2 separate regions of the Homo sapiens genome follow, and region 2 is linked to region 1. The links come from fine-mapping of genetic effects on gene expression. A gene starts in region 1. The other region holds a variant in brackets. All regions are shown on one strand. Distances are from middle to middle.

Evidence for each region. PIP is the estimated chance that this variant, and not a neighbour inherited with it, causes the effect.
Region 2: its variant is fine-mapped to the expression of TLE6 in cerebellum (GTEx, PIP above 0.99).

Annotation. Positions count from the first base shown.
Region 1 is chr19:2,973,447-2,983,134 of GRCh38, forward strand. TLE6 (TLE family member 6, subcortical maternal complex member) reads left to right here and starts at 4,118. Exons shown (of 17, transcript NM_001143986.2): 1 at 4,118-4,164; 2 at 4,752-4,838; 3 at 6,654-6,736; 4 at 8,092-8,137; 5 at 8,702-8,743. The coding sequence starts at 4,788. RefSeq lists a silencer at 3,840-4,149 and enhancers at 9,012-9,530, 9,531-9,688.
Region 2 is chr19:2,993,105-3,002,792 of GRCh38, forward strand. It overlaps TLE6 (TLE family member 6, subcortical maternal complex member), which reads left to right. Exons shown (of 17, transcript NM_001143986.2): 15 at 328-478; 16 at 915-991; 17 at 1,796-2,075. The coding sequence ends at 1,900. It overlaps TLE2 (TLE family member 2, transcriptional corepressor), which reads right to left. Exons shown (of 20, transcript NM_003260.5): 18 at 9,249-9,399; 19 at 7,543-7,619; 20 at 4,540-4,851. The coding sequence ends at 4,744. Among named protein-coding and RNA genes, the nearest start is that of TLE6, 20 kb to the left of the region's middle. The variant G/A (reference allele first, on the strand shown) is at 4,795.

The DNA.
Region 1 (9,688 bases):
GAATGGAATTTTAAATTGTATTTCATTTTAATTAATTTTAACTTAAATAGCCACATGTGCTTACTGGATACCCTGTGAGACAACCCTGTGAGTCTTGGATAAAGCAACGTGCCCAGCTGAAAGTCTACAATCAGAGGGAGGGGAAAAAGCAAAGCCCATATTAGGAGGCTGGACCATAAATAAAACACACTTTAATTATGCAGCTGGGTGCAGTGGCTCACGCCTGTAATCCCAGCACTTTAGGAGGCCGAGATGAGTGGATCACTTGAGGTCAGGAGTTTGAGACCATCCTGGCCAACATGGTGAAACTCCATCTCTACTAAAAATACAACATTAGCTGGAGGTGGTGTGGTGGCGGGCGCCTGTCATCCAAGCTACTCAGGAGGCTGAGGTAGAAGAATCGCTTGAACCCAGGAGGCAAAGGTTGCAGTGAGCCAAGATCGTGCCACTGCACTCCAGCCTGGGCGACAGAGCAAGACTCTGTCACAAAAAAATAATAATAATAGCCAGGCGTGGTGGCTCACACCTGTAATCCCAGCACTTTGGGAGACCAAGGCAGGTGGATCACAAGATCAGGAGTTTGAGACCGATCCGGCCAATATGGTGAAACTCCATCTCTATTAAAAATACAAAAATTAGGCGGGTGTGGTGGCGGGCGCCTGTAGTCCCAGCTACTTGGGAGGCTGAGGCAGGAGAATCGCTTGAACCTGGGAGGTGGAGGATGCAGTGAGACAAGATCGCGCCACTGCACTCCAGCCTGAGGGACAGAGAGAGACTCTGTCTCAAAAAAATAAGTAATAAAAATTAAAAAATAATAATTATGGGACAGTGGAGGGTTCGTGGGTGGGAAGCTTTTCTGCAGGTCTTTCATGACGGCCCCTCCCTTTGTTCTCCATGGACCAGCTGCAAAACCCAAGTCACGTGTGCACATCACCACCTCTGGGGGCTACTTGTCCCAGCATTGAAACCCTCAGTTCCCCGCAGCGAGAGAGCACAGAACAGAAAACAGGGAAGAGTTTCTCTGGCTGGGTTTGGATCTGAAGTCAGCAGACCTATCGGGCATTTGTGTCACATGGGGAGGTCAGAGGATGGGAGGCGTCTCTGTAGGAGAATCCTGACAGCATTCTCTGCATTTAGAACATGCAGGGCTTAGAGCTATCGTGGGAGGCTCCCGCCACAGGAGCCACTGAGATTACAAGATTAGCTGCAATCCAAACCACATTCGGAAAAAAATAAAATAAGAAAGGGAGATACAGGCCCGGTGGCGGCACAGTGGCTCATGCCTGTAATCCATAGTACTTTGGGAGGTGGAGGTGGGAGGATCACTTGGGGTCAGGAGTTCAAGACCAGCCGGGGCAATGTACTGAGACTCCCCTCCCCCTCGCCCTGTGTTTAAAAAAAAAAAGAGGAAATAAAGGGAAATATAGGGAAGGGAAGGGAGGGTTGGGAGGTCTCTTCAATGAGATCCTTCCTTCCTTCCTTCCTTCCCTCCCTCCCTCCCTTCTTTTTTTTTTTTTGAGATGGAGTTTCACTCTTGTTGCCCAGGCTAGAGTGCAATGGCACGATCCTGGCTGACTGCAACCTCCACCTCCCGGGTTCAAGCGATTCTCCTGCATCAGCCTCCCAAGTAGCTGGGATTACAGGCGTCTGCCACCACACTCAGCTGACCTTTGTATTTTTAGTAGAGATGGGGTTTTGCCATGTTGGCCAGGCTGGTCATGAACTCTTTTCTTCTTTTGAGGCAGAGTACTCTGTCGCCCAGGGTGGAGTGCAATGGCGACATCTTGGCTCATTGCAACCTCTGCCTCCCAGGTTCAAGTAGCTGGGATTACAGATGTGCATCACCGTGCCCGGCTGATTTTTGTATTTTTAGTAGAGGTAGGGTTTCAGCATGTTGGCCAGGCTGGTCTGGAACTCCTGACCTCAAGTGATCTCCTGCTTCGGCCTCTCAAAGTGCTGGAATTACAGGCGTGAGCCACCACGCCTGGCCTGATGTGGTGATTTTTTTTTTTTTTTTCTGAGACAGAGTCTTGCTGTGTCACCCTGGCTGAAGTGCAGTGGCACAATCTCGACTCACTGCAACCTCCGCCTCCCAGGTTCAAGTGATTCTTCTGCCTAAGCCTCCAGAGTAGCTGGGACTACAGGTGCCTATCACCATGCCTGGCTAATTTTTGTATTTTAGTAGAGCTGGGGTTTTCTTTTTTTTTTTTTTTTTTTGAGACAGAGTCTTGTTCTGTCGCCCAGTCTGGAGTGCAGTGGCGCAATCTTGGCTCACTGCAAGCTCCGCCTCCCGGGTTCACGCCATTCTCCCGCCTCAGCCTCCTCAGTAGCTGGGATTACAGGCACCCACCGCCACGCCCGGCTAATTTTTTTGTATTTTTTATTAGAGATGGGGTTTCACCGTGTTAGCCAGGATGGTCTCGATCTCCTGACCTCGTGATCCACCCGCCTCGGCCTCCCAAAGTTCTGGGATTACAGGTGTGACCCGGCCAAGCTGGGGTTTCACCATGTTGGCCAGGCTGGTCTCGAACCCCTGACCTCAGATGATCCACCCACCTCTGCCTCCCAAAGTGCTGGGATTACAGGCGTGCACCACAGCACCTGGCCCAACGTGGTGATTTCTAAGTAGGGAGCTGAGGGAGTAAGGAGCCAGCCGGTGGCTGTCTGAGAGAGACTGTCCCTGGCAGAGTGAACTGCTAATGCCAGTACCAGGTCCTGGGCCAAACAGAAAGAAACGGGCTCTCACTCCAGAACTGCAGCTTGACCACTATATATATAATATATATACTTTATATATATTATAGCTATATATTTTTTTGAGATGGAGTCTTGCTCTGTTGCTCAGACTGGAGTGCAGTGGCACGATCATAGCTCACTCCAGACTCAACCTCCTGGGCTTACGCCATCCTCCTGCCTCAGCCTCCCCAGTAGCTGAGACTACAGGTGCATGACCACCACACTTGGCTAATTTTTAAATTTTTTGTAGAGACGCGGTGTCACTGTGTTGCCCAGGCTGGTCTCCAACTCCTGGCCTCAAGCAATCCTCCCACCTCAGCCTTCCAAAATGCTGGGATCACAGGTGTGAGCCATGGTGACTTGGCTTCATATTTTGAATAGGCCAAAACAAAACTCCGAAATCCCCTTACTCCTATCCCCACGACCCCACACAGCAGGTTTCTCTCGCTCTGCAGCAACCCACTTACCTCTCGGAAATCATCCCAGGCCTGTTCGGAGTGCACGCAGCCCCGTTAGCCTCCCTGGCTGCTCCTGTAACCAGCCCAGCTCTGCCTGAGAGGTTCCGCTATTCCCTCCGTCTGGAATACCCACCACTCTCTCCCACCCCGCGCTTGCATCCGGCAATACTGTATCAGCCTCAGGGCCTCTGCTGTCCCGCTTTCTGCTCTCAGAGCCTTTGTCACTGGGCTGGAAGAGCAGTTGGGAAAATTCGGTGATAAATGCATAGCCCGGGGCTGGGACCATCAAGGGGACCCAGTAAGTTGGCTCCAGAAAGAGGACTTGAAGCTTCGTTTGCATTGCACGTTATTTAATATTGAGGAAAATGTAATTAGCCCGTATCTAAGAATTGGGGTGACAGCGCTAAAGATTGAACCCACCCACCTCCCACTCCTCACCTCCAGCCATAAGCCACTTCCGGACAAGGCTAAAAATGCGTAAAACAATGCAACTACTCGCCACCTATCCCTGCCCAAGTTCCAGCCTCTGAGCCTCAAGCCCCACGCCCTCCTAAATATCCCCGCCCCCGCTGGGACCCCAAATTGCCTATAGCTCTGCAAGTCCGCCCTTCCCGGCAGCGGGACCGAAAGGGTAAAGCAGAGGCTCCCGGCTCGCTGAGTGACAGCATGGCCGGCGGCCGGGGAGAGCCGACCAATCAGGGAGGGCGTACGCGACCCACGTGCGTAAACGGCCTCGCTATTGGCCGGCGCCGCCAGAGGCCTGCCCCCCCCGGAGCCCGAACCCACGTGCAGCTACTGCGCCTTCATTGATCTGCTTCGCGGTCCAGGTGGCGGCTGGGTGGGGCCTGGGCGGGACGGGGCGGGGACAAGGCGGGACGAGGCGGGGCCCGATGGGTCAAATGGCCCCCGGTGGGGGAAGGAGGAGTTTCCTCTTGGCCTGAACTTGGCTGACCTCCGCAGCTTCCGCCCGGTGAGGGACGTGAGTTGCCAGGCGTGTTCTAGGGGGCTGGGGGGACTCCAGGATTCCCGGCCGGGGAAGGGGCTGCAGGGGCGTGGAGGGGCAGGACTGAGGCAAGGAAGAAGCTGGGTGCTGCAGCAGGGATGGAGGTGGAGAGAGGTCGTTTCTTCTGTCTGATGAATTCCGCCTAATGCACCTGGCTAACTCCTAGTCATCCTTCAAAACCCCTTTCTAGTGATCTCCCTGCGCTTTAGGAAATTGTCTCAAAACTAAGGTTGAGCTTTGGCGACCTTCCCTGGGCTCCCCCGTCCCTGACTGCCCCCAGCAGGGAGTGTATGTGCACTATCCACCCCAGCCTCCTAGGGTGAGGCCTGGGAGGCAAGGCTCAGTTCTTTCTGGGTCCCCGCCCCCATGAATCTGGGCAGCTGGAGGCATTGATAAGTGAGGACAGGACCTAGGGAACGCATGGGAGAACCGCAGGATTGGGTCCCTGGAGACTTACCAAACTGGGAGGTGCGGGTGGGGTAACGGGTGCCTTGCTTCCCTGGCACTGCCTTATTTTCTGTCCCTCAAGACCTGCCGTCTCCTTGTTGTTTTAGACTCTGGCTAAAGTCTTGGAGGCTACTGCCTTGAAGATGACCTCTAGGGACCAGCCCAGACCCAAGGGCCCCCCGAAAAGCACTTCGGTGAGGAGGGCATGTGGTGGGATCAGCCCTCAAGGGAAACCCGGGCCCAATGTGGTTCTGCCCCTTTTCCACCTGTGACCTGGGCTGGCCCCGCCCAGGCCTCGCAGCTGAAGACAATACTGGTCGCTGCTACACTCAAGACAGGTGCCAAGGAGCCGTGTTTTTTAAAAAAAATTAAGTGTAGGCTGGACACTGTGGCTCACAACTGTAATCTCAACATTTTTGGAGGCCGAGGCAGGAGGACCACTTGAGCCCAGGAGTTTGAAACCAGCCTGGACAACGTAGTGAGACCCTGTCTCTGTAAAAAATAAAACTAGAAGAATCAGCTGGGCCTAGTGACGTGGGCCTGTAGTTGCAGCTACTTGGGAGGCTGAGGCAGAGGGTTGGCTTGAGCCCAAGGAGTTTGAGGCTGCAGTGAACTATGATGGTGCCACTGCACTCCATCCTTGGTGACAGTGAGATCCCATCTAAAAAAAAATGTAGCATCTAATCACATATGTGATAAAAACACAGGAACACATCATGTATTTGGTTGATGTTTTACAAGCAATCCCCGCTCCCTGCACTTTGCGTCCCAGAGATGACCATTTGTAAATTTAGGCTCTCAGGGCTGAGCAGACGTTTTTTTTTGTAAAGGAGTCAGATGAGGGATATTTTGTTTTGAGACTTTATGATTTTATTATGTTTGAGACGGAGTCTCACACTCACCTCGGCTGGAATGCAATGGCGCAATCTCAGCTCACTGCAACCTCTGCCTCCCGGGTTCAAGTGATTCTCCTGCCTCGCCTCCCGAGTAGCTGGGACTACAAGCACCTGCCACCATGACCACCAAATTTTTCTTGTATTTTTAGTAGAGACTGGGTTTCACCATGTTGGCCAGGCTGGTCTCGAGCTCCTGACCTCGTGATCTGCCTGCCTCAGCCTCCCAAAGTGCTGGGGTTATAGGTGTGAGCCACCACACTTGGCCAAGAGACTTTATTTTATTGAGTCTTGCTCTTGTTGCCCAGGCTGGAGTGCAGTGGCGCGATCTCGGCTCACTGCAACCTCCACCTCCCAGGTTCAAGTGATTCTCCTGCCTCAGCCTCCCGAGTAGCTGGGATTACAGGTGCGCGCCACCACGCCCGGCTAATTTTTGTATTTTCAGTAGAGACGGGGTTTTGCTGAGTTGCCCAGGGTTGTCTCAAACTCCTGACCTCAGGTGTTCTGCTCACCTCGGCCTCCCAAAGTGCTGGGATTACAGGCATGAGCCACCTTGCCCGGACTTTTATTTTTAAAAATATTTTGTGCTTCTATTTTCATCACAAGAATGTGGTGAACATTTTAGACTTTAGGCCAAAGTGCAAAATGGAAGATGCTCTTTACTGAAATAAGAGAGGCCGGGCGCGGTGGTTCATGCCTGTCATTCCAGCACTTTAGGAGGCCGAGGCGGGTAGATCATGAGGTCAGGAGGTTGAGACCAGCCTGGCCAAGATGGTGAAACCCCATCTCTACTAAAAATACAAAAATAAGCCAGGTGTGTTGCCGGGGGCGGGCGGGGGAGGGGGGCGCGGGCGCATGTAATCCCAGCTACTCGGGAGGCTGAGGCAGGAGAATCGCTTGAACCCGGGAGGCAGAGTTTGCAGTGAGCTGAGATTGTGCCACTGCACTCCAGCCTGGGCGACAGAGCAAGACTCGGTTTCCAAAAAAAAAAAAAAAAGCAAAAACCACAATTACTTTTGCACCAACCTAATGCCTATGCCATGTTGAGGTGGAGACCGGGGGTCTTGGGTGTTGGAGCATTGTAAGTTTTATGTAACCTTGCTTTGACCTTTCCAGCCTTGTCCTGGGATCTCGAACTCTGAGAGCTCTCCGACGCTGAATTATCAGGGCATTCTAAATCGGCTCAAGCAGTTCCCCAGGTGAGAGCAATTCCAGGGGCCGGAGGTCTCACGCTGGGAAGGAGCCCCACCTGGCCTCTCTCCCGGGGGTCCTAGTGAGTGGTCTAGAGGCTGCTGGCCCAAGAGCCAGGCTCAGGAACAGGAAGCCATGCAGATACCCAGCATGGAGAACCCGGCAATACCCATCCCAGCTTTTGATTAAACAAAATTACCAACAAATATTAAAATTTTGATTTTCCTGTTCGACATGGATTTGTTGGCATTCAATTTTATTGTTGAAAAATACTGCAACGGCTGGGTATGGTGGCTCGCACCTGTAATCCCAGCACTTTGGGAGGCGGAGGCGGGCGGATTGCTTGAGGTCAGGAGATCAAGATCAGCCTGGCCAACATGGTGAAACCGCGTCTCTACAAAAAATACAAAAATCAGCCAGGCTTGGTGGTGGGTGCCTGTAATCCCAACTACTTGGGAAACTGAGGCAGGAGAATCTCTTGAACCCAGGAGGCGGAGGGTTGCAGTGAGCCAGGATCACACCATTACACTCAAGCCTAAGGCTACAGAGTGAGACTCGGTCTTTAAAAAAAAAAAAAAAAAAAAGTACTGCATGGGCTGGGTGCAGTGGCTTGCACTTGTAATCCCAGCACTTTGGGAGGCAGAGGCAGGAAGATCGCTTGAGCCCGGAGTTCAATACCAGCCTTGGCAACATAGCGAGATGCCATCTCTTAAAAAATAAAAAAAATCTAGCTGAGTGTGGTGGTGCACACCTGTAGTCCCAGCTACTCAGGAGACTGAGGCAGGAGGATCATCTGAGCCCAGGAATTGGAGGCTGCAGTGAGCCATGATTGTACCACTGCACCCTAGCCCGGGCAACAGGGTGAGATTCTGTTTAAAAAAAAAAAAATTGAAGAAAGTGGCGGGGCGCGGTGGCTCAAGCCTGTTGTAATCCCAGCACTTTGGGAGGCCGAGGTGGGCGGATCACCTGGAGTCAGGGGTTTGACACCAGCCTGGCCACCATGGTGAAACACTGTTTCTATTAAAAATACAAAAAAATAGCTGGGTGTGGTGGCAGGTGTCTGTAATCCCAGCTACTCGGGAGGTCGAGGCAGGAGGATCTCTTGAACCCAGGAGGCGGAGGTTGCAGTGACACTGCACTCCAGCCTGGGTGACAAGAGTGAGACTCTGTCTCAAAAAAAAAAAAAAAAGAATATACTGCATTAAAATCTTACTGAACTTCTTGACACTGCCTTAAATTTGGCTTCTGGAGCCAGTGCCTTCCAGCTTCATTGAGACCCTCCCTAGGGGTTGAGGGTGGGGCTCACTCTGGGGAGGGAGTCCTGAAGCCACAGGTCTTCCAGCCTGTCCTCCTTCCCCCTCAGGTTTTCTCCTCATTTTGCTGCGGAGTTGGAGAGCATTTACTACTCGGTGAGCCAGACCCAGGCAGCCCCAACCAAGGAGGGCCCCACTGGGACAAGCTGAGGCCCTGGTTTCCCGGCCCTGCCTCCTGAGTGCCCTAGAGAGGTTCTTTTCCGCCAAGCACTGTGCCTCACGCCTGTAATCCCAGCACTATGGGAGGGCGAGGCAGGTGGATCACCTGAGGTCAGGAGTTGGAGACCAGCCTGGCCAACATAGTAGAGACCCTGTCTCTACTAAAAATACAAAAATTAGCCGGGCATGGTGGCAGGTGCCTGTACTCCCAGCTACTCGGGAGGCTGAGGCAGGAGAATCGCTTGAGCCCAGGAGGCAGAGGTTGCGGTGAACTGAGATCACACTGTACTGCAGCCCAGGTAACAGAGCAAGACTCTCTCTGAGGAAAAAAAAGGTAGGGACCATACATCAGTGTAGTAAGAAAGTAAAAGAGAAAACAAGGTGAAAACAAAAATTTAAGGTGGGGGAGTAGGGGCCAGAGAGGTAGAGCAGCTTGCCCAGGGTCACACAGCATTCACACCCGGACCACCTCCCGATGGGATCTCTGTTTTCCCTTTGCAGCTGCACAAGATCCAGCAGGATGTGGCAGAACATCACAAGCAGGTGGGTGACCAGGAGCTCAGGGGTGCGGCTGTCCCTCCATGAAAGGCATGAGAAAGCACAGAGGGGGGCCGGGCACAGTGGCTCAAACCTGTAATCCCAGCACTTTGGGAGGCCGAGGAGGGTGGATCACTTGAGGTCAGGAGTTCGAGACCAGCCTGATCAACATGGTGAAACCCCGTCTCTACTAAAAATAAAAAAATTAGCCAGGCGTGGTGGCGGGCGCCTGTAGTCCCAGCTACTTGGGAGGCTGAGGCAGGAGAATTGCTTGAACCCGGGAGGTGGAGATTGCAGTGAGGCAAGATCGTGGAACTGCACTCCAGCCTGGGCGACAGCGAGACTCTGTCTCAAAAAAAAAAAAAAAAAAAAAAGGAGGTGGGGGATGGTGAAGACAGAGGACGAGGGGTAGGTCATGCTGAGCCTTGTGGGCCGTGGGAAGGACTTGGGCTTTGACCCCAAGGGAGGTGGGAGCCATGGAGGACTGCTGGCAGAGGAGGGACATGCCCTGACTTGGAAGCCCCCGTGATATTAGTGGAGGCCCCATATCTTGGGGAGCATCTCCTGTCCTGTCTCTGAGCTGCTTCCAAGAGAGGGTCAGTCCTGCTCCTTCCGCTCCCTGGGCCCCTGCGCAACCTAGATGACCCTTTGCCGGTCAGTTGCTTTGGACAGAGAGAGCCTGTGATGGGGCAGGCACCCGGCTGTGTTCCCCTGCGTGTCTGAGTGTTCAATGAGGGGCCATATGACATGGGAGTGAGGGGAGCTCTGCATGGGAGGGGGCGCCCGGGCTCCCATCTCCCAGCCCAGGGCGCCTGGCCCAAGCAGAAGTACGCCTTCCAGCCCTGCCTGTCCTCCCGCCACCTGGCCTTTTCTCCCAGGCGCTGGCAGGATTTTCCGCCTGTGCCAGATGTAACTGGCAGGGGCCCAGGGCCGTGTCTGCAACTTAGCAGG
Region 2 (9,688 bases), 20 kb after region 1:
AGAGGCTGAGGCGGGAGAATCGCTTAAACCCCAGGAGGCAGACGTTGTCGTAAGCCGAGATCGTACCATTGTACTCCAGCCCGGCAACAGAGCGAGACTCCGTCTCAAAATAAACACTCATGCTGTATCAGGTGCAAAGTAGGGAAGACTCTCCATTTTACACACCAACAAACTGAGGCACAGATACGAAGTTGCTTGTCCCAGGGCTGCACAGCTAGGAAGGGGTCAGTCACCCGGCCTCCAGGATAGGTCCCCAGGCTCCTGCCTGCTTCCTGGGCCAGGCTGGGACCTAACCAGGTTCCTCCCTCCCCACTGCCCATTACCTAGATAATGAGCCTGTCCCACAGCCCCCAGGAGGACTGGGTGCTGCTGGGCATGGCCAATGGCCAGCAGTGGCTGCAAAGCACCAGCGGGAGCCAGCGGCACATGGTGGGGCAAAAAGACAGCGTCATCCTGAGCGTCAAGTTCTCCCCCTTTGGTAAGCGGCTGGCGGAAGATGAGGGGACTCCCCTGCAGCCCCCAGCCTCCCACAAGACCCCACCTAATGCCAGCTCCCCACCCAACCCTCTAGGACACCTCAGAACCCTTCTGTAGCAGAAACCAATTTTGGGGATGCTCTTATAGTGGAATGAGGGAGGGAAGGGGGTGGGTGCCTGGGCCCTTCCTCCCCACCCGCCCCACCGGCGCGGTCCGCCTCCGCCCTTCCCCCTTCAGCCACTGGTGTCCCCATGAGCCCGGGGAGGCTGAGGCCACAGTGAACTGTGATCATACCACTGACTGTAGTCCAGCCTGGGTGACAGAGTGAGACCCTGTCTCAAAAAAAAAAAAAAAAAAAAAAGGTGGGTGGGGAGGATGAACTCTGGGAAGGAAAAAGGTAGTGGTTCTAAGTCTCGCTGATGCTCCATTTCTCCCAGGCCAGTGGTGGGCAAGCGTTGGAATGGACGACTTCCTTGGCGTCTACAGCATGCCGGCGGGGACAAAAGTGTTCGAGGTACTGCGGTGGGCTGGGGGCAGGACCCGGGGGTGGCCCCAAAGGGACCAGCCTGGGCAACACAGCAAGACCCTGTCTCCACAAAAAACTTAAAAAGTAGCCAGGTGTGGTGGCTCACGGCTTTAATCCCAGCATTTTGGGAGGCTGAGGCAGGAAGATCTCTTAAGTGTAGGAGTTCGAGACCAGCCTGGCCAACATAGTGAGACCCCATCTCTACAAAAAATAATTAGCTGAGCCGGGTGCGGTGGCTCACGCCTGTAATCCCAGCACTTTGGGAGGCCGAGACGGGCAGATCATGAGGTCAGGAGATCAAGACCATCCTGGCTAACACGGTGAATCCCTGTCTCTACTAAAAATACAAAAAATTAGTTGGGCGTGGTGGTGGGCGCCTGTAGTCCCAGCTACTTGGGAGGCTGAGGCAGGAGAATGGCGTGAGCCAGGGAGGCGGAGCTTGCAGTGAGCCAAGATTGTGCCACTGCACTCCAGCCTGGGTGACAGAGACTCCATCTAAAAAAATAATAATAATAATTAAAAACACTTTTAAAATTAAAAATAATAATTAGCTGAGTGTGGTGGTGCACACCTGCGGTCCCAGCTACTTGGGAGGCTGAGGCAGGAAGATTGTGTGAGTCCAGGAGGTCGAGGCTGCAGCAAGCTGAGATTGCACCACTGCACTCCAGCCTGGGCAACAGAGCAAGACCCTGTCTTTCTTTGAAGAGACGATGCTTCATGCTTGAGCTGACAGGTGGAGACCAGGGGTGTGTGAGCCCTACCCCAGCTCACTGCCCACTGCCCCCCCTCCAGGTGCCTGAGATGTCTCCAGTCACGTGCTGTGACGTCTCTTCCAACAACCGCCTCGTTGTCACAGGCTCCGGGGAGCACGCCTCCGTGTACCAGATCACCTACTGAGGGGCCTCGCTGCTGTCATCCCACTCCGGCTCCTCTTTTCATCCCCCCCCTTCCCCCCCCCCAACAAGGGGGACATGGTGGAGGGAAGCGGGAAGGCTCTTCTGTGGCATCGCACGATCTAGTCTGTGGTGTAGACTGGTCGCCATCACGTGTAATAAAGCACCCGGGAAAGGCAGAGTGTGGACGCGTCCTGTCCTCTGAAGGGAAAGGGGCCTTCCCATCCCGTCCCTGCTCAACTTGTGGAAATCTGGAAGGACTTCGTCCAGCCTGGTGGCTCTAAGCCTTTTTTTTTTTTTTTTTTTTTTTTTCTGAGGCAGGGTCTCACTTTGTTATGCAGGCTGGAGTGCAGTGGTGCCATCACGACTCCCTGCAGCCTCTCCAACTCCTGGGCTCAAGCCATCCTCCTGCCTCAGCCTCTTGAGTAGTTGAGACTACATATATGTACCACCGTGCTCGGCTAGTTTAATTTTTTTGTAGATGCTGGGTGTGGTGGCTCACACCTGTAATTCCAGCACTTTGAGGTCGGGGGTTTGAGACTAACACAGTGAAACCCCATCTCTACTAAAAATACAAAAATTAGCTGGGCATGGTGGCACGTGCCTGTAATCCCAGCTACTAAGGAGGCAGAGGCAGGAGAATCTCTTGAACCCGGGAGGTAGAGGTTGCAGTGAGCCAAGATCGTGCCACTGTACTCCAACCTGGCAACGGAGCGAGACTCTGTCTCAAATTAATAGAAATAACAAAATTTTGTGTAGACACAGGGTCTTGCTCTGTTGCCCAGGCTGGTCTCAAATTCCTGATTTTATGTGATTCTCCCACCTCGGCCTCCCAAAGTGCTGGGATTACAGGCGTGAGCCACTGTGCCTGGTCTCAAACTCCTGATTTAAGCGATCCTCCTACCTTGGCCTCCCAAAGTGCTGGGATTACAGGCATGAGCCACCGTGCCCAGCCCTCTGAGCCGTTTCCGTCCTCGTTCTCTGGGAATCTAGTCACAGCCACAGACTTTGCTGTTGGGGTAGCAGATCTCCACCTCCGCCGCCCGGAGCAGCTCCAATCTGGTCCGATGTTTCTGGTGTGATTCCAGGAGCAGTGTGAGTGGTCCTGTCCTAGACATGTCCCATTTGACCAGTAGTCTCCAGTAGGGTGATTCTGCCCCCCGGGGACTCTAGGCGATGTCTGGAGGCATTTCTGGTTGTCACGACTTGTGGGGTCCCCCTGGCATGGAGTGGGTGGGGGCAGGGACATTACTCACCATTCTGTGGTGCCCAAGACGGCCCCACCCCAGAGGATGGTCCAGTCCCGAGGTCCACAGTGCTAAGGTCGAAACAAATTTCCAATAGCTTCACTGGTCGGCCTTCTTCCCACACAAGCTAGGGCTCTGGAAACGCCACTTGCCCACCCTCCCTTTTCCAAGCTATGAAGGGGCCCAGATGTCAACGGGCCTAGGCTCCTTAACCCAGAGAATTATCCCCTTTCCTGCGGTGTCTCCAGAAACATCCACCAGGGCGTGCCTTCTGTTCTCAGCAGGAACCCTCCCATCTCCTTCTAGAATGTTCCCAGCGGCATCTACTCCGCCCAACCTATGCTGCCTTAAATTTTTTTTCTAGAGATGGAGTCCCACTATTGCCCAGGCTGGTCTCAAACTCCTGGGCTCAAGCAATCCTGCCGCCTCAGCCTCCCAAAGTGTTCAGATGACAGGTGTGAGCCCCAGCACCGGTCCTAACCCTTGCTGTACGTGGTAGCCCACCTGAGCTTCCAGAACACGGGGCTGATTGCCCCCCACTCTCCCCGCTCCCCACTGAAGCCTTGTCTGCAGGCCTCGTTCTCCAGAACCTGGCTGTCTTCTGGGTAACCACCAGGCCGAGTTCCCCTTGCCTCTGAGATATCGCATCCGCCATTCTCCTCTTTCCAGAACAGTCTTCTCAGGGCTCTGGGGGCTGTTTCTCATCCCTTAGTGCTCAGTGTACCCCTCCCCTCCACTGGGCAGGGACGTTTGCTCAGCCCTTTGCCATGCGCAGGGCTCTTAGAAATCCTTGGAATCTAGCCAGGTGCAGTGGCTCACGCCTGTAATCCCAGCACTTTGGGAGGCCGAGGTGGGTGGATCACCTGAGGTTAGGAGTTTGGGACCAGCCTAGTCAACATGGAGAAACATTGTCTCTACTAAAAATACAAAAATTAGCTGGGTGTGGTGGTGTTCCTGTAATCCCAGCTACTCGGGAGGCTGAGGGAGAAGAATTGCTTAAGCCCAGGAGGCAGAGGTTGCAGTGAGCTGAGATCGTACCACTGTACTCTCCAGCCTGGGAGACAGAGTGCGACTGTCTCAAAAAAATTTCTACCCGGAGGCCTGAGTGACTACCTGGAGTAGAGCCCCGTACACCATGTGGGTATGAGCAAGGAAAAAATGCATGAACCCTGAGACTCGGGGACTACTTGTTACGCAACAGCATCTTAACGATCCTGCCCAGCGCAACTCCTGTGTCTCAGAGTGGCTCTCACATACCAGGCAGACACCTCTGAATATCCTGCAGAAAGAATTCTCGTTACGTATGACCCCATCCCCAGGACATGGTTGCCTCCCAGTAACCGTGCCCAAGAGGAACAATGATCACCGGTTCCCCAGCCCGAGAGAGAAGTGCGGATGTGATAGATACATTTTATTTCCACCGAGGTCCCCTGCCCATCGGCCCCCACATGCAGCAGGGGAAGGTGTGAAGCCGTTGGCCAGAGAGCAGATGGGATGTACGGTTCCTAGGCAGGGCTGGGAGGCGGCTGCTAGGATGTCTGTCCTGGCTGCTGATTCCCCTGGGAGTCTGGACTTCGGGTACAGGAAGGGGGGTCATGTCTCAGTAGACCACCTCATACACGGTGGCCTTCTTGTCCCCCGAGCCTGTCAC[G/A]ATGTATTTGTTATTTCTGGAGATGTCACAACTCAGGACTGAGGACGACTCCTTGGACTGCCAAGGGAAGGGAGAGAGAAAAGGGCACAGTGAGGCATGGTCCCCACAGATGGGTGTGTGGGCAAGGCTGGGGCGGAGTCAGGAACGGGAGGTCAGGACTCGCCTACAGAGTGACGTGTTTCTTTTTTTGAGATGGAGTTTTGTTCTTGTCGCCCAGGCTGAAGTGCAGTGGTGCGATCTTGGCTCACTGCAACCTCCACCTCCCGGGTTCAAGACACTCTCCTGCCTCAGCCTCCCAAATAGCTGGGATTATAGGCGCCCGCAACCACGCCCGGCCAATGTGTGTGTGTGTGTGTGTGTGTGTGTGTGTGTGTGTGTAATTTTTTTTTTTTTTTGTGAGACAGGGTCTAACTCTGTTGCCCAGGCTAGAGTGCAATGGTGTGATCTCTGCTCACTGCAACCTCCGCCTCCCAGGTTCAGGCAATCCTCCTGTCTCGAACTCCCAAGCAGCTGGGATTGCAGGTGCATGCCACCATGCCTGGCTAATTTTTGTATTTTTAGAAGAGGCAGGGTTTCACCATGTTGGCCAGGTTGGGCTTGAACTCCTGACCTCAGGTGATCCGCCTGCCTTGGTCTCCCAAAGTGTTGAGATTACACGCATGAGCCACCGCACCCGGCCTAATTTTTGTATTTTTAGTAGAGACTGGGTTTCCCCATGTTGGCCAGGCTAGTCTCAAACTCCTGACCTCAGGCGATCCACCGCCTAGGCCTCCCAAAGTGCTGGGATTACAAGCGTGAGCCACCGCGCCCGGCAGAGCGACTTGTTTTCTACAGACAGGTGCTTTGGAGCTAAGTCCAATGGGCAGAACAGGGCCTCCATTCCCTCAATACCAAGAGAGATGGAACTGAAGTGCTGCCCTTTCTGGAAGCTCAGAGTGGGTGTGCACCAGGCATGATGTCACACAGCACAGCAGAGGGCCAAGGCAATGGCTTAGACCAGGGATCAGCAAACTTCACAAAGGGCCTGGTAAACATTTTAGGCTTTGCCTAAAGTCTAAATAAGTCCATGTCACATATTCTGGGATTTTTTTCTTACAACCCTTTGAAAATATAAAGGGTTGGCACGGTGGCTCGGCGCTTCCGGAGGCCGAGGCAGGTGGATCACCTGAGGTCAGGAGTTCCAGACCAGACTGGCCAACGTGGGGAATCCCCGTCTCTACTAAAAATACAAAACTTAGCCAGGCATGGTGGCGGGCACATGTAATGCCAGTTACTTGGGAAGCTGTGGGAGGAGAATCGCTTTAACTCAGGAGGTGGAGGCTGCAGTGAGCTGAGATTGCGCCACTGCACTCCAGGCTGGGCGACAGAGAAGGACTCCGTGTCAAAAAAACAAAAAAACACTGTACCAACCAGGACGGGCATATTAAAAACACTGTACCAACCAGGACGGGCATATTAAAAAGACAGCCAATAACAAGTGTTGGTGAGGATGCAGAGAATTTTAAAATTTCAATCACTGCTGATGGGGATATAAAATTTGAAAAACAGGCTGGGTGTGGTGGCTCACACCTGTAATCCCAGCACTTTGGGAGGCCAAGGCGGGTGGATCATGAGGTCAGGAGATCAAGACCATCCTGGCTAACACGGTGAAACCCCGTCTCTACTAAAAATACAAAAAATTAGCCAGGTGTGGTGGCGGGTACCTGGAGTCCCAGCTACTCGGGAGGCTGAGGCAGGAGAATGGTGTGAACCCAGGAGGCAGAGCTTGCAGTAAGCAGAGATAGTGCCGCTGCACTCCAGCCTGGGTGACAGAGTGAGACTCCATCTCAAAAAAAAAAAAAGAAAGAAAAACAGCTGGGCGCAGTGGCTCACGCCTGTAATCCCAACACTTTGGGAGGCCAAGGTAGGCAGATCACCTGAGGTCAGGAGTTTGAGACCAGCCTAGACAACATGGTGAAACCCCCTCTCTACTGAAAATACAAAAATTAGCCAGGCGTGGTGGTACATGCCTGTAATCCCAGCTACTCGGGAGGCTGTGGCAGGAGAATCGATTGAACCCGGGAGGTGGAGCTTGCAGTGAGCCGAGATCGCAACACTGCACTCCAGCCTGGGAGACAGAGCAAGATTCTGTCTCCAAAAAAAAAGAAGAAATGAGTAAGATGGCAAATTTTATTTTTATTTATTTATTTTTGAGGCAGAGCCTCACTCTGTCGCCCAGGCTGGAGTGCAGTGGTGCGATCTCAGCTCACTGCAAGCTCCACCTCCTGGGTTCATGCCATTCTCCTGCCTCAGCCTCTCGAGTAGCTGGGACTACAGGCGCCCACCACCACGCCTGGCTAATTTTTTTGTATTTTTTTTAGTAGAGACGGGTTTTCACCATATTAGCCAGGGTGGTCTCGATCTCCTGACCTCGTGATCCGCCTGCCTCAGCCTCCCAAAGTGCTGGGATTACAGGCATGAGCGACCGTGCCCGGCTGGCAAATTTTAAATTTTATAATATTATATGCATGTTACTGCAACTAAATTTTAGAAAAACCAACAGGCTACGGGCAGATGAGGCGAGGCCTCCGGCTGAAATTCCAACCTCTGCTTTAGTACCTGGGCGGTAGGGAGGCTTGCAGGACCCTGAGGAGGGGTTAGGGTGGCGGGGGGACCTGGGGGACAGGGACAGGGGCAATCTCTCTGTCTGACCCTGGCATACCCGGGCACATGGCCCTGCCAGAGTGGGGGCTCCAGACCGCCGAGTACCTGGAAAATGCTGGCCCCGTACGGCGTCCTCCAGGCGTTGAGCAGGTTGTCCTTCCCGGTGCTCACAAACCACCGTCCTTGGGGAAGGAGAGCAGCAGGGTTCAAGGAGGGGGCACTAACGAGAGACCCGGGCTGCAGGGGGAGGTCGGGGAAGCTGGGTCTGGGTCTGGCCTCTCCCTTTTTTTTTTTTTTTTTCCAAGAAAGGGTCTTGCTCTGTCACCCAGGCTGGAGTGCAGTGGTACAATCATAGCTCACTGCAGCCTCCACCACCTGGACTCAAGCGCTCCTCCCAAGCAGCTGGGACCACAGGTGTGCACCACCACGCCCAGCTAATATTTTTATTTTTTGCCGGGGGCAGTGGCTAACACCCGTAATCCCCACTTTGGGAGACAGAGGTGGCTGGGTCACTTGAGGTCAGGAGTTTGAGACCATCCTGGCCAACATGGTGAAACCCCTTCTCTACTAAAAATACAAAAATCAGCTGGGCATTGTGGCAGGCACCTGTAACTCCAGCTACTTGGGAGGCTGAGGCTTGAGAATCGCTTGAACCCAGGACGCAGAGGTTGCAGTGAGCTGAGATTGCGCCACTGCACTCCAGCCTGGGTAACGCAGTCAGACTCTGTCTCAAAAAAAAAAAAAAATATTTTTTGTAGAGTTGGGATCTCACTATGCTGCCCAGACTGGTCTCAAACTCCTGGCCTCAAGCGATCCTCCCACCGTGGTCTACCAAAGTGCTGGGATTACAGGTGTGAGCCACTGTGCCCAGCCCAAGTTTTGTTTGTTTGTTTGTTTGGTATAAGATATCCCATGTACTATTTAGGATATACTTACACTAATGAATGATTTTTTTTTAAAAAGAGATAGGGTCTCACTGTATTGCCCAGGCTGGAGGGCAGTGATGTCATCATAGCTCCCTACAGCCTCAAAGTCCTGGGCTCAAGCAATCCTCCTGCCTCAGCCTCCCTCGTACCTGGCACTACAGGTGCGACCTACTGGCTGTTTAATTTTTTTGTAGAGAAAGTCTTGCTATGTTGCCCAGGCTGGTCTTGAACTCCTGGTCTTGGGCGATCCTTCTGCCTTAGCCTCCCAAGTAGCTGAAACTACACACATCAGCTACTGTGCCTGGCTTAAATTTCTTTTCTTTCTTTTTTTTTTTTTTTTTTTTTTTAAGATAGAATCTCACTCTTGTCTCCCAGGCTGGAATGCAGTGGCATGATCTTGGCTCACTGCGACCTCCACCTCCCGGGTTCAGGCAATTCTCCTGCCTCAACCTCCCAAGTAGCTGGGATTACAGGCGCCCACCACCACGCCTGGCTAATTTTTGTACTTTTAATAGAGTCAGGGTTTCACCATGTTGGCCAGGCTTGTCTCGAACTCCTGACCTCAGGTGATCTGCCTGCCTTGGCCTCCCAAAGTGTTGGGATGACAGGCGTGAGCTACCACACCCAGCCTTAAATTTGAATCTCAGATAAGTCATCAGTAATTTTTAGGACAGGTATATCCCAAATACTTCATTATTTGGTTTTTAGTATAAGTATATCCCACACACCATTTGGGATATACTTGTACTAACGATTTGCTTTTGAGTATATAAAACTTAGTATATAAATAACATTATTTGTTATTTATCTAAGATTCAGATTGAATAGGCACCCTGGGTTTTGTTGGGGTTTTGAGGGCGTGCCACCCCGCCCCAGAAGACACACCGCAGGAGGCAAACTTCAGGGACAGCACGCAGCTCTCGTGGAGGTGCAGCTGGTATTTCTCCGGCTTGCGGACGTGCAGGATCTCCACGTTGCTACTCTCCATTCCGACCGCCAGCCAGTCCTGGTTAGGGCAGTGGCCCAGGGAGAAAATCTGGGGGTAAAGAGGGAAGAGATGGGGTCACGAGCCCCTCTTTGTTTTGTGTTGAGACAGGGTCTCACTCCGTCACCCAGGCTGGAGTGCAGTGGCACAATCATGGCTCACTGCAGCCTTGACCTCCAGGGCTCAAGAGATCCTCCTGCCTCAGCACCAGAAGCTGAGACTACAGGCATGCACCATCACGCTGGATAATCTTTTTTTTTTTTTGAGACAGAGTCTCACTGTGTCACCCAGGCTGGAGTGCAATGTTGCAGTCTCAGCTCACTGCAGCCTCTGCCTCCCA